Regions from separate parts of the Homo sapiens genome. Here region 2 is linked to region 1. The links come from fine-mapping of genetic effects on gene expression. A gene starts in region 1. The other region holds a variant in brackets. All regions are shown on one strand. Distances are between the middles of the regions.

Evidence for each region. PIP is the estimated chance that this variant, and not a neighbour inherited with it, causes the effect.
Region 2: its variant is the best candidate, but not a certain one, in a credible set for the expression of EPS8 in blood mononuclear cells (TOPMed, PIP 0.85).

What each region holds. Positions count from the first base shown.
Region 1 is chr12:15,787,057-15,792,056 of GRCh38, reverse strand. It overlaps EPS8 (EGFR pathway substrate 8, signaling adaptor), which reads left to right and starts at 2,669. Exons shown (of 21, transcript NM_004447.6): 1 at 2,669-2,896. RefSeq lists silencers at 2,462-2,811, 3,072-3,191, 3,522-3,601.
Region 2 is chr12:15,744,487-15,750,015 of GRCh38, reverse strand. The region is part of intron 1 of EPS8 (EGFR pathway substrate 8, signaling adaptor); the gene reads left to right. Among named protein-coding and RNA genes, the nearest start is that of EPS8, 42 kb to the left of the region's middle. The variant A/G (reference allele first, on the strand shown) is at 3,415.

The DNA of each region.
Region 1 (5,000 bases):
AGATAATGTCAGATCCTACAGGTTGAGGGCTCAGTCCCACAAGACTACCCTGACTTCAGATGCCAAACAAAAAAGCCCCAGGTGGCTTTACTTGTGCTTCTGGCTGAACAACTAGAAATTAGGGTTCCCGTGACTCCCTCCTTGAGTTTGGTTATTTTGCTAGACCTGCTCACAGAACTCAGGGAAACATGTTTACCATTTTCTTATAAAGGATATTACAGAGGATACAGTTGAAGAGATGCATAGGGTGATTTATGCCCTCTCTGGGAGCACCGCCATCCAGGAATCTCCGTTTAGTTATTCATGTTCCCCTCTCTGGAAGTGCATGTAACCCATTCTTTTTTTTTTTTTTTTTGTGGAGGCTTTATTGCGTAGGCATGATTGATCAAGTCATGGGCCATTGGTGATCAGCTTAACCAGCCCCGGAAGTTAGAGGGTGGGGCTGAAGGTTCCAACACACTAATCATGCCTTGGTCCTTCCTATGACCAGTCCCCATCCTGAAGCTATGCTGGAGCCCCCAGCCATCAGCCAATTCATTCAAATACAAAAAGATGTTCATCACTTTGGAGATTTCAAGGATTTTAGGAGCTATATGTCTGGAAATGGGATGAAGACCAAATATATATTTTATAATATCACAGGCCTTTTTAAAGCCCGTTCTGTGTTACTGTTTCTTACTAGACGTAAATGGAGCCAAACAAGGCATACTTATTAAATTTACAAATGTTAAAAGTGATCACTAGTATTTATCTGAAATTGTGTCCTAAAACAAACACGATAAAATTTAATAAGAATAAAACAAAAATCAAGATTTAAATACATAGAAGTATAGACTATGAAAGGTGGAAGATACGGTTTAATTTAGTTGATGTGAAATAGACTTGGGTGTTCTGTTTGAATCTAGGTAGTGTGTGCTTGCATCAAAGGGGTGGCTGATCAGCAGCTGGAGAACTGGAACTCAGTTCTTGGCCCACTGTATTTGAATATTGTATTCTCAGTGCACAATTTAGAGAGGAGAATGAAAATCAAAACACATTCAAAGCAAGGTGAATAGTGTGATTATGGCAGCTCACTGCTATTTGAAAAACACTTAAAAGAGAATTTTTGAAGAAATGTATTAGATCTGTTGGTTACTTAATAGTTGCCCCTACTATTTCAAGGCTTGCAGTGTCTATAAAGAATGAGATTCATATTGTGTTGTTCCTAGGGGCAGAACCAAGACCAGTAGTATCAGGGAAGTTGATTTGATGTTCATAAATGATACAGGCTATAGTGTTAAGCAGACCTGGTTGTTAATTCTGGCGTCAGCATTGGCTTTGGCAAAAAGAAGGAAACTTCTGGGTTTCATTTTCCTAATGTGTTTAATAGGTATAATAAGGCCCATCTCATTTTAAGGACTAGGAATAATGTGTGTAAGTTGCTCAGTTCCTGGCATAGGTAAATATTCAACAAATAATCATGGTTATATGTAATGATAAAAATAGAAATTTACAACATTGGAAATGTTCAAGTGGATAGTGGTCTGGTGGAAATATTGGAGAGAGTATTCCCACTTAAAATAGGGGACTGGACTTAGCCGTTATATCGATTCCAACTTTTAGAATGGTTTGAATGTCCACCTTGGCATGTTACGTCGTTTCTCCCTGACTGTGCTTTTATTTGCTTCACAAAGCAAGCAAGTCCAATCTCTTTTAACCAAGTTTAATTTATAGGCTTTCGTGGACTTCTGGAAGTCAACTGACTTCGAAGTTAGGACAGCATGGGGGGATTGGGGGAGTAGCTATGACAATGAGGAGTTTTAAGAGTGAGAAAACACAATGTCTATGAGAACATGGACTTCTCTTTTAGAGGCTCCATGAGCTACTCAGAGAGGAGGTTATGAGGGTTGGTTAAGGTACGAGAGGCACAAAGTGAAAGAAGCCTCCACTACTTCAAACCACATCAGGGCTTTTGGCAAGAGCTACATGAAAAATAGGCTCACAGGCAGCCTGGCGAGGCGGGTCTGGGCTTGCAGGCTGGCGCTAAGGACCGGCAGTTGGGAGACTCTCAGGGACCCGATGGAGGGCCTTGGGCACCACCAGTTTACCGCATGGGTTGGAGAGACAAAAAAAGAGGAGAGCGACAAAAGGGGGAAAATAGGTCCGATGATCAGAGGAGGAAGACGAAGGCTGGCTGGTCATTAGATGCGTCTTGTTTGCCGCCAAAGGGCAGGGGTTACGAGCTGTGCAGCCAGACTGGGTGTTGCAACCCGAGCGCTCCCTCCGCCCGGGGCGTCCATCCTCGCCGGGGGCGAAGCTCTCCACACGCTCTTTGCCCCTTCCTGCGCCTCCTGGCTGCTAGTCAGTCCTGTTAGGGCACTTCTGGAAACCTGCTGTCGACTCGCTGCCTTGGTCCGACTTTGATCGCGGCCTTGATAACTTGGCGCAGCGCCCCGTCTCCTTTCCTCCGGTCCCTCTCCCGCCCACCCGGCCTCACCGGCCACTTCGCCTCAAGCGCTGGAGTCGACCAGAACTCTGCGGCTCGGCTGCCGGCAAGACCCGGATAGCGGATTTCGCTCCTGGCTGCGGGGCGCGCACTCGCCCGCCCGCCCGCTCGCTCGTTCCTCGCGCGGGCACTGGGCATGCGCGGCGCGCGGTTGGCACTGGCTGCGAGCGGGCGGGCGGCTCCAGACTTCACAGGCAGCAGCTAGCGAGGCGGTCTCGCCCGGCGCGAGGCCGGCGCTGTGCTCGCCTCGGAGATCGCTGCTCTTTAGCTGGGTGCAGAAGGCGGCTCCGCGGCTCGCGGACGACTGGCTGGGCGCGAATCAGATTGGGGGGCTTTCTCCCGGTCCCCTCCCACCTCGTCTGGGCTCGCGGCGTCTCCGGGGAAAGCCGTGGCCCCGAGGGCGGATCCGAGGTAAGAGCCCCTTGGCGAAAGGCGCCGGTCCCGGGGTCCGGCGGCTTTGACTTTCTCGATTTTAAAAATCCGCCTTTGTGTGCTGGAATCGGAGCGGTGCCAGGAGCCGCGTCCGCCTCCCTTCACTTTGACTGCTTTCAACTGGTGTTGGCAGCCAGGTGCGGTAGGGCGCTGCGGCCGGAGGCGTCCGCTCGCCGGGTCCGGGCAAGCTGTGGGGCCCGTGCAGACCCGCGCCCAGGGCTCCGGGAGGCTGGGCAGGGAGGGTTCGCCGTGGCCCAGTGATATTCATGGTAACCTGAGCTTCCGCAGATACACCTGCGCTCATCTGGTCCGTGGGGCGACTGCAGACCGAGTATCCCGATCTCGGCTTATTACGTTAGACTTGGGATTTGTGCGCTGCTCTGCCAACCCGCCTCAAATGGGGAGGGGTTCTTTTCAAAATGACCCTTTAGGGCAGGGTCCCACCCCCGTTTACCCCCTCGAATTAACATAGCTAATTGTTTCGGAATCGTTGTCAATGCCTAATGGCTGTTGACTTTCTTAGCTTGCTCCACTTTACTCACCATTTTACTTTTGGGAAGACAGACGGCCTTTCTCCGGTTGTGGTCAGTTCATGCATTTGAAAGGGGTTTCCCCACCCATGTACTCCCTGCCCTCTCCGATGTTCTCACTCTTACTTTCCTTCCTAGGACTACCTGTTTGCAAAATCTTTGCACCGACCGTTCTCCGGCAGTGTTTCTCAAATCCTCCTCCTCCCATAGGGCCCGTAGTACTGTTGGAATCTCGCGGGGGGCAGGACGCCGTGGTTAGGATTTGAAATCCGCAGACATCTAGAGCGGTGAAGGATTAGGAATTAGAATCCTCCTTTACAAAATATGTTTCAGTGAAATGTGTTACTGCTTCTCTTTTCAAGGTTTCTTGCCTTAGATAGTAAGGGGAATAGGTAAAAGAGCTAATATGTTAGGATGAGTTCAGGTAAAACTTGATTTCAGATGTGTGAAGAGTGTGACTTTTTGGCTTTGTCATTTTTGGGAAATAGGAGAGTTAGGATTCCGGGCAATCTTCTTTATATTGAAAAAGCCCCTCAAAGTAACTGTGTTGTGTATTGCCTCTAGTTTATTTTCATTGAAAGGACTCCATTCTTCCACAGCTCCTTGGGTTCTGGAAAGTGAGCACTAGTAATGGACGTCATGTGGTAGTGAGTCTATTGGAATTAAAGTCAATGTCATCCTGTCTCACCTAGTATAGATTTTTTGTTTGGGATCGCAGTTTTCTAAACATATTGCTGTAGTTCTTAAGTTGCTGGTGTGGAAAATTTTTGGTCACGAATTCACACTTTTACTTACAATTTGACAGTTAAAACAGTATAGAATTGTCACATAAAGGGTAAGGTAGAATGTATCACAAATGCAATAGTGATAATATAATGCCTTTATTGCAGAATACACAGATTGAGACTTTGTAAGATTGCACCACAAGTCATTCACTTTATAGCAGAAAAAAAAGAAGGAAAATATAATTTGCTTTTAATTCTACTATTCTGAGATAACCGCTGTTTACAAGACTTGGTGCATTCTCTTTGTAATTTTTTTCACTTCCCAATGTCATTGAATATTATATAGTAATTTCCAGTAAGTGTAATTTAACTTATACTGTTAGTAGCCCCACTCTTAATAGGGTGATGTTTCTTTTGTTTCCTGTCAGGAACCTAATGTCTAATTTTGAATATTTTGCTTGTTTGTGATCAAACTTAAAGATTTATTTTGTTTTTATTTCTAGCTTTTTCCTGCTTTCAAGGTTTTATCAATACTGATTCTTTTCAGATACCAGTTCTTTTCTATGCTATGGCATAGGCTTGCTACTCTCTACTTTGTGTTTATTACATTCCAAATCCTAGTTATTTTCTTACACTCTGTTTCACACCCTTTACCCTACTGCTTTTTATTCTTCTCTCTACTCCCTTCTTTTACATACCTCTTTTAATTCTGCAGCAGGTCACTTGAACCAAGGTTTGTATAAGAAAACATAGTATCCAGAATAGGAAATGATAGGTTTTTAAAAGTTGTCTCTTTAAATACTTGAAGTTCTATTGGATGAATATTTT
Region 2 (5,529 bases), 42 kb after region 1:
CCTCAGCAGGGAGAAACAGAGGAAAGTTATCTGAAATCTTAGACAAAAGGAACAAAAGGCAGTGGGCTTTTAGGTTTCTGAAGTGTAACTATTCTACAGAAGGAGATTCGTTTTTCTTAGATGAATTACTATAGTCTACTAGATTTTGTTTACATAAGGAACTGATTTATTTTGGGCTTACTGGTGTGTGGAAGCACAACTAATATTCCCTAACTAATGTTAGAAAACAGAAAATAAAGAAGAAAATATCTATAATCTCAACATGTAATCACTTAATTTTATATTTGATTTTAATGAACAATGCAATATGAAGATATTATGAACAATATGATATATGTTGTTTTGATTAGGTTAATTTTTCTTCCTACCACTACCACTATCATAATGGTTATTGTCATCATCAAGTATTTATTGAGTCCCTTCTCTGAGTGAGGCATAGTCGCAGCCAGAGTGAAGAAGATAAACAAAAGGCGTGTGTTTTCTTGTAAGGAGATTATTTTCTATTTTGGACTGAACATATATCTTGGAAACAAATTACAATAAATGATTTATTCATTAGGCAAATGATTATTGAGCTCTATTATGTGCAGGCCCTTTGCTTAGCATTTGAGAAATAATGTTGAACAAGACATTCCTGCTCTTGAGTATACTGTGCAGGGTAAGTGATAGACAAGCAAATAAGAATTTCAATAAATTATAATGCATGAATTGTCAATGAAATGCCACAGACAGCGAGTGCTATAAAAGGATATTATATTAAAAGATATATTGAAAAACCTATTGGACAGTGTTGGAAACCAGAATAAATTTTTTTTTAATTACTTGTTTCCTATATTGGCCCTTAGTGAGAGCCTAAGGCATAATCTTAAATAGTCAGGTAATCAATACATTTTATGACAAATTAAGGTAATATAGTTCAACAGTATTACATTTAGCTCTTCCAAAAGAACACTAGGATGGATCTTGACAAAAATAGTTAAAAGGGCCTTAAGTTCTCTCTAGCATCAGTTGTCTCAGTATTTGCTTTTGCTGGAGTTTAACATTAACATTTGACAAGTACATAAAGTGCTGATGTTCTATGGTATGAAAGGAAGAGAAGACTATACGTTTTATATTCTGGATTAGCAAGTGTCAAAGTTAGCATTCCATTATGAAAATTAGGAAACCAGATAGGCTTTTTTTGGTGAGGCGGGGCTAGGCAATGGATGTTTTCGCCCTTTCAGGAGGATATGTGAATAAAAGAGAAAAAGCTTAGATCTGTTATACATTGGATATTCTGTCTTTACCTGACATAAAACTTGTTGCAGAATAGAATTTTCTATCTAGAGTTATTCCATTTTAAACTAACTGGGCATATTTTCTTTTCTTTATATCAGATGAAAGGAATGAAAGCTACGTGTTTATACTTTATTTGAGTTGTTCAGATCCAGAGTGAAAAATACCAAGGGAGCTGTGGAATTTCTCTCCCTGGAGATCTTTAAGAAAAGGTGTAGGTATTCAGACACTTAATTCACTGAAATTGTTTCTGTAGAGTTTTGTGTGTCCTACTTTAAAAAAAAACAAGATGTGTAAAAACCCAGACTTAGAAAATTGATATTATTGAGGATAATTCTTTCCTTTCTAATCCTCATCACTTTAGTTTTCCTACTAGGTGAATTTATTTGGTAATAGATGAATACTTAAAATTGGTGAGCATTTGACTTAAGAATATTACTTCATAATATTTTAATTGATATTTGTGAAGAATTTCGAAGTTTTCAAAACATTTTACATTATTATATCATTTGCTTCTCAGTGATCTTATGCAGTAGACAAGGTTGGTATTATGATTATTTCCCATTTTGCTGTTAAGGAATCTGAGGATAAGAGGCTCTGAGATTTGACTGTGGGTTATTAAGTTGCGGGGCTTGGCACAGACCTTTTGATAGCAAATTCTCTGCCTTTTTTGCATGCATGAGGCATTACTTTTTTTTGTTTTGTTTTTGTTTTTGATTTTGAGATGGAGTCTTGCTCTGTTGCCAAGGCTGGAGTGCAGTGGTGTGATCTCGGCTCACTGCAATCTCCGCCTCCCGGGTTCAAGCGATTCTCCTGCCTCAGACTCCCGAGTAGCTGGGACTACAGGTGCCTGCCACCACGTCCGGCTAATTCTTTGTATTTTTAGTAGAGACGGGGTTTCACCGTGTTAGCCAGGATGGTCTCGATCTCCTGACCTCGTGATCCGCCCACCTCGGCCTCCCAAAGTGCTGGGATTACAGGCGTGAGCCACTGCGCCTGGCTATTTTTTTTCTTAAATTGGAGTATTTGTCCTGTTTTATATTGAAATCAAGTCACTGAAGATTCTGGAGAATAGGATAATATCTCTGGATCATTCATTTCTTCTTTCTGTAAGCTGAATGATGGCTGAGGGAAAGGAAAATATGTTTTGGGCTCCCCCCAAGTTACTTTTTTGATCATTTGCCACTTTCTTACTAATGCAGTGTTGTAGATGGTAACTGGGGGTTCTCTATCAGTTCACAAAAATAATTTAACTTATAAGATTACTGAATTGGTAGTACTGGAACTAACCAGCTGCTCCTAAAATAGTGCATTTTGGTTTGAAAAACAGATTGGGTTTCTAGGAAATGGAGTAAGTTTGTTAATGTACTAAGATTAAGCACTTTCTGATAACCATATTAGCTATATATAGTATCCACTTCAGCTTACCATTAATAAATTAGACCATGCACTTAAAAGAACCAAAATAAAATCAGTTTATTAACTATTGAGTCTTTACATTAGAGCCACAGTTTATACAGGTTAAGTTTTAAAGTTAATATCCAAATGTGTACAGCAAATAATCTCTAGCAAGAAAAATAGGATATATTATTGAGGGTTACTAGGTTGGCTTTATGCATTGAGATAATTTTACTTTGTAGTTCTGGTTTGAAAAGTTTGTTTATTTTCTCTGAACACTTCCTGCGTACAAAATATGTATTGACTGTTGAGGATTTAAAAATATCAGAAAAAGGCAAAGAAGAAAGGAGTCCCTTGTTAACCCCTCTGTTTTAGAATAGTTTTGGTAAGAAAGGAGGGTGAGTTCATTTTATAAGAAGAACTAGTTAGTAGGGCACTATGGTAACTAACATAATTCAGGAGCATGCAAACAGTAGTGGACAGTAGGAGTATATGCTTAGGGGGATGCTTGTAGATGAGTTTGATTAGCTAAATTATGGTGGGCCATGAATTCCAGGATAAGAGATTTGTTGTTTTTCAATAGAAGGGATTCCAGAGCTCTTCTAATCCAGGACTTGCTTTTCAGGTAAGGAAACCAAATTGAGTTGCTCAAATTACTGAGTAGAGGAACTGGGGCTGGAACCCAAGCTTCTTGATTAATAAGTTAATGTTTCTTCTGTTATACGATCTCATGTGTTGCCA[A/G]TGTTGGTTCTGGGAGAGAGGAAAGCAAAATAAAAGCAGTGCTTTTTGAATAAATTCTTATAGTCTTAGAAAAAGAAGATTGATTAGAAGGGGGAAGTTATTTAAAATTGGAAGACCAGTTAAGCTCATTTTGATTATCCAGACATGTGATGATGGAGTCATCAATGGCTAGAGTGATGAGGAGAAAGGAAGTGCCATTAAAATCAGTGAGAAAATTTGAAGAGTAAGCTTATGGTGGGAAAGATCAGGTTCAATTTTGAACAAATTAGAAATCAAGCAGAAATGTTTGATTAGGCAGATAGCAATATGGGGCTGATATTCTTGGTGTTAAATTATATTTAGCAGCTAAAGAGGATTGACTAGCTGGTTAGCATGCAATATAATCCTTTCACACAGTGCTACTGAGGGCAGTTGAGTTCTAGGAAGTCTCCCCCTGACTCCTGCTTCAAGGAAAAATTAGTTCTCTATTAGATGCATCACTGACTGAAACATTTGTTTAATAAACTGGTATAGGCAAACTCACCTCAAAAAGACCAATACTGGCCTGATGATATAATCGTATGATGCTTCTTTTTCTCCTATAAAGGTGTTCATAGAATGTGCAATCCCATGTAAAAGCTGTGTGTTAAAGAAAATGGTGTAACTCTTCAACCCTCATAAGGCTTTGTGAGATTTTATGGCATGATCGCATTTATTGTCATGATAGTAATTCAGTTTAATAATGTTAACTAGTTTCATTTGGACAACGTATTTGCCCTGGTCATTCATCCTTTGTTGTTTTAAACTTACATGTACTGGGAAACCACATATAATAGCTCTTGATGTTTCTACTAAAAGGCAGAGAACTTGAGCTATTATCTAGATAGTCTATGAAAATTTTAAAGATGGGGCAGTGTCTTTGTTTAATTTCTCTTTGTGTATTTCCAAGGATTTGAAAGTGAACAATGGGAGGTCTATATTTTGCTAGCAATGATTGCTACACTCACCTGACAAAATAAAAGTGATTTCTTTTTCTGTGGTTTAAAGAATTTTTTTTTTTTTTTGGATACATAGTCATAGATTTTTGGAGTCAGATGGGGACTGTAGAGACTGTCTAATTCAGGGATAATACCTGGTTTCCATTTCTATGCTGACTTTATAATTTAGTAGTGGCTGTTTACAGCAATGTTGAGAATTCCCACATCTTTGGGTTCAGCTTGGCATTAAAGAGTGTAATGATAAATTATTGATGTTTTTTATGGGAACGGGGAGGGCCCGCACAAACGTCATGTACTTGCTATCCTGATCTACTCTAGTTCTTTTGTTTTTCAGGTGAGGAAACTAAAATCTACTGAACTTAGTCTATAATAAGCAGTTAGGTTGTAAAGTGTTCTTTTATACTCATTTCTTTGAAACAGGTAGAGTTTTTCTTTACAAATAATGTTAAAAATAATGGACAATTGGCCAGGCATGGTGGCTCACGCCTATAATACCAGCACTTTGGGAGGCTGAGGTGGGTGGATCACGAGGTCAGGAGATCGAGACCATCCTGTCCAACGTGGTGAAACCCATCTCTACTAAAAATACAAAAATTAGCTGGGCGTGGTGGCACATGCCAGTAATCCCAGCTACTTGGGAGGCTGAGGCAGGAGAATCACTTGAACCTGGGAGGTGAGCCGAGATCGCGCCACTGCACTCTAGCCTGGTGACAGAGCGAGAGTCTGTCTCAAAAAAAAAATAATAGTAATAAAAAAATAGTAATAATGGACAGTTAAGTTTTTAGGCTAGTTCACAAAAGACTTTTAAAAGTATTTGTTAACGTTATCCATAACTACTTGGTTTAATTAAATTCTTGTTTGTACTATTCCCATAACCTTTGTTTCAGCATTTATCATACTGTGTTATAATTACTTAAGTTTGAAACCAGCCTTTACCACTTAGTACCTGTATGAATTTGCAAGTTACTCAAATTCTACATGTTTCAATTTTCTTATCTCTTGAAATAGGAAAGTATTACAACTTACCTTCATGGGCTTGTTGTAAGAATCAAATTATTAAATATGTAAAGCACTTAAAAAAGAGCCTGGAATCTTGAAAGAGTCATGAGAATCCTTCTCAATGGTGCTTTAGGCAGCA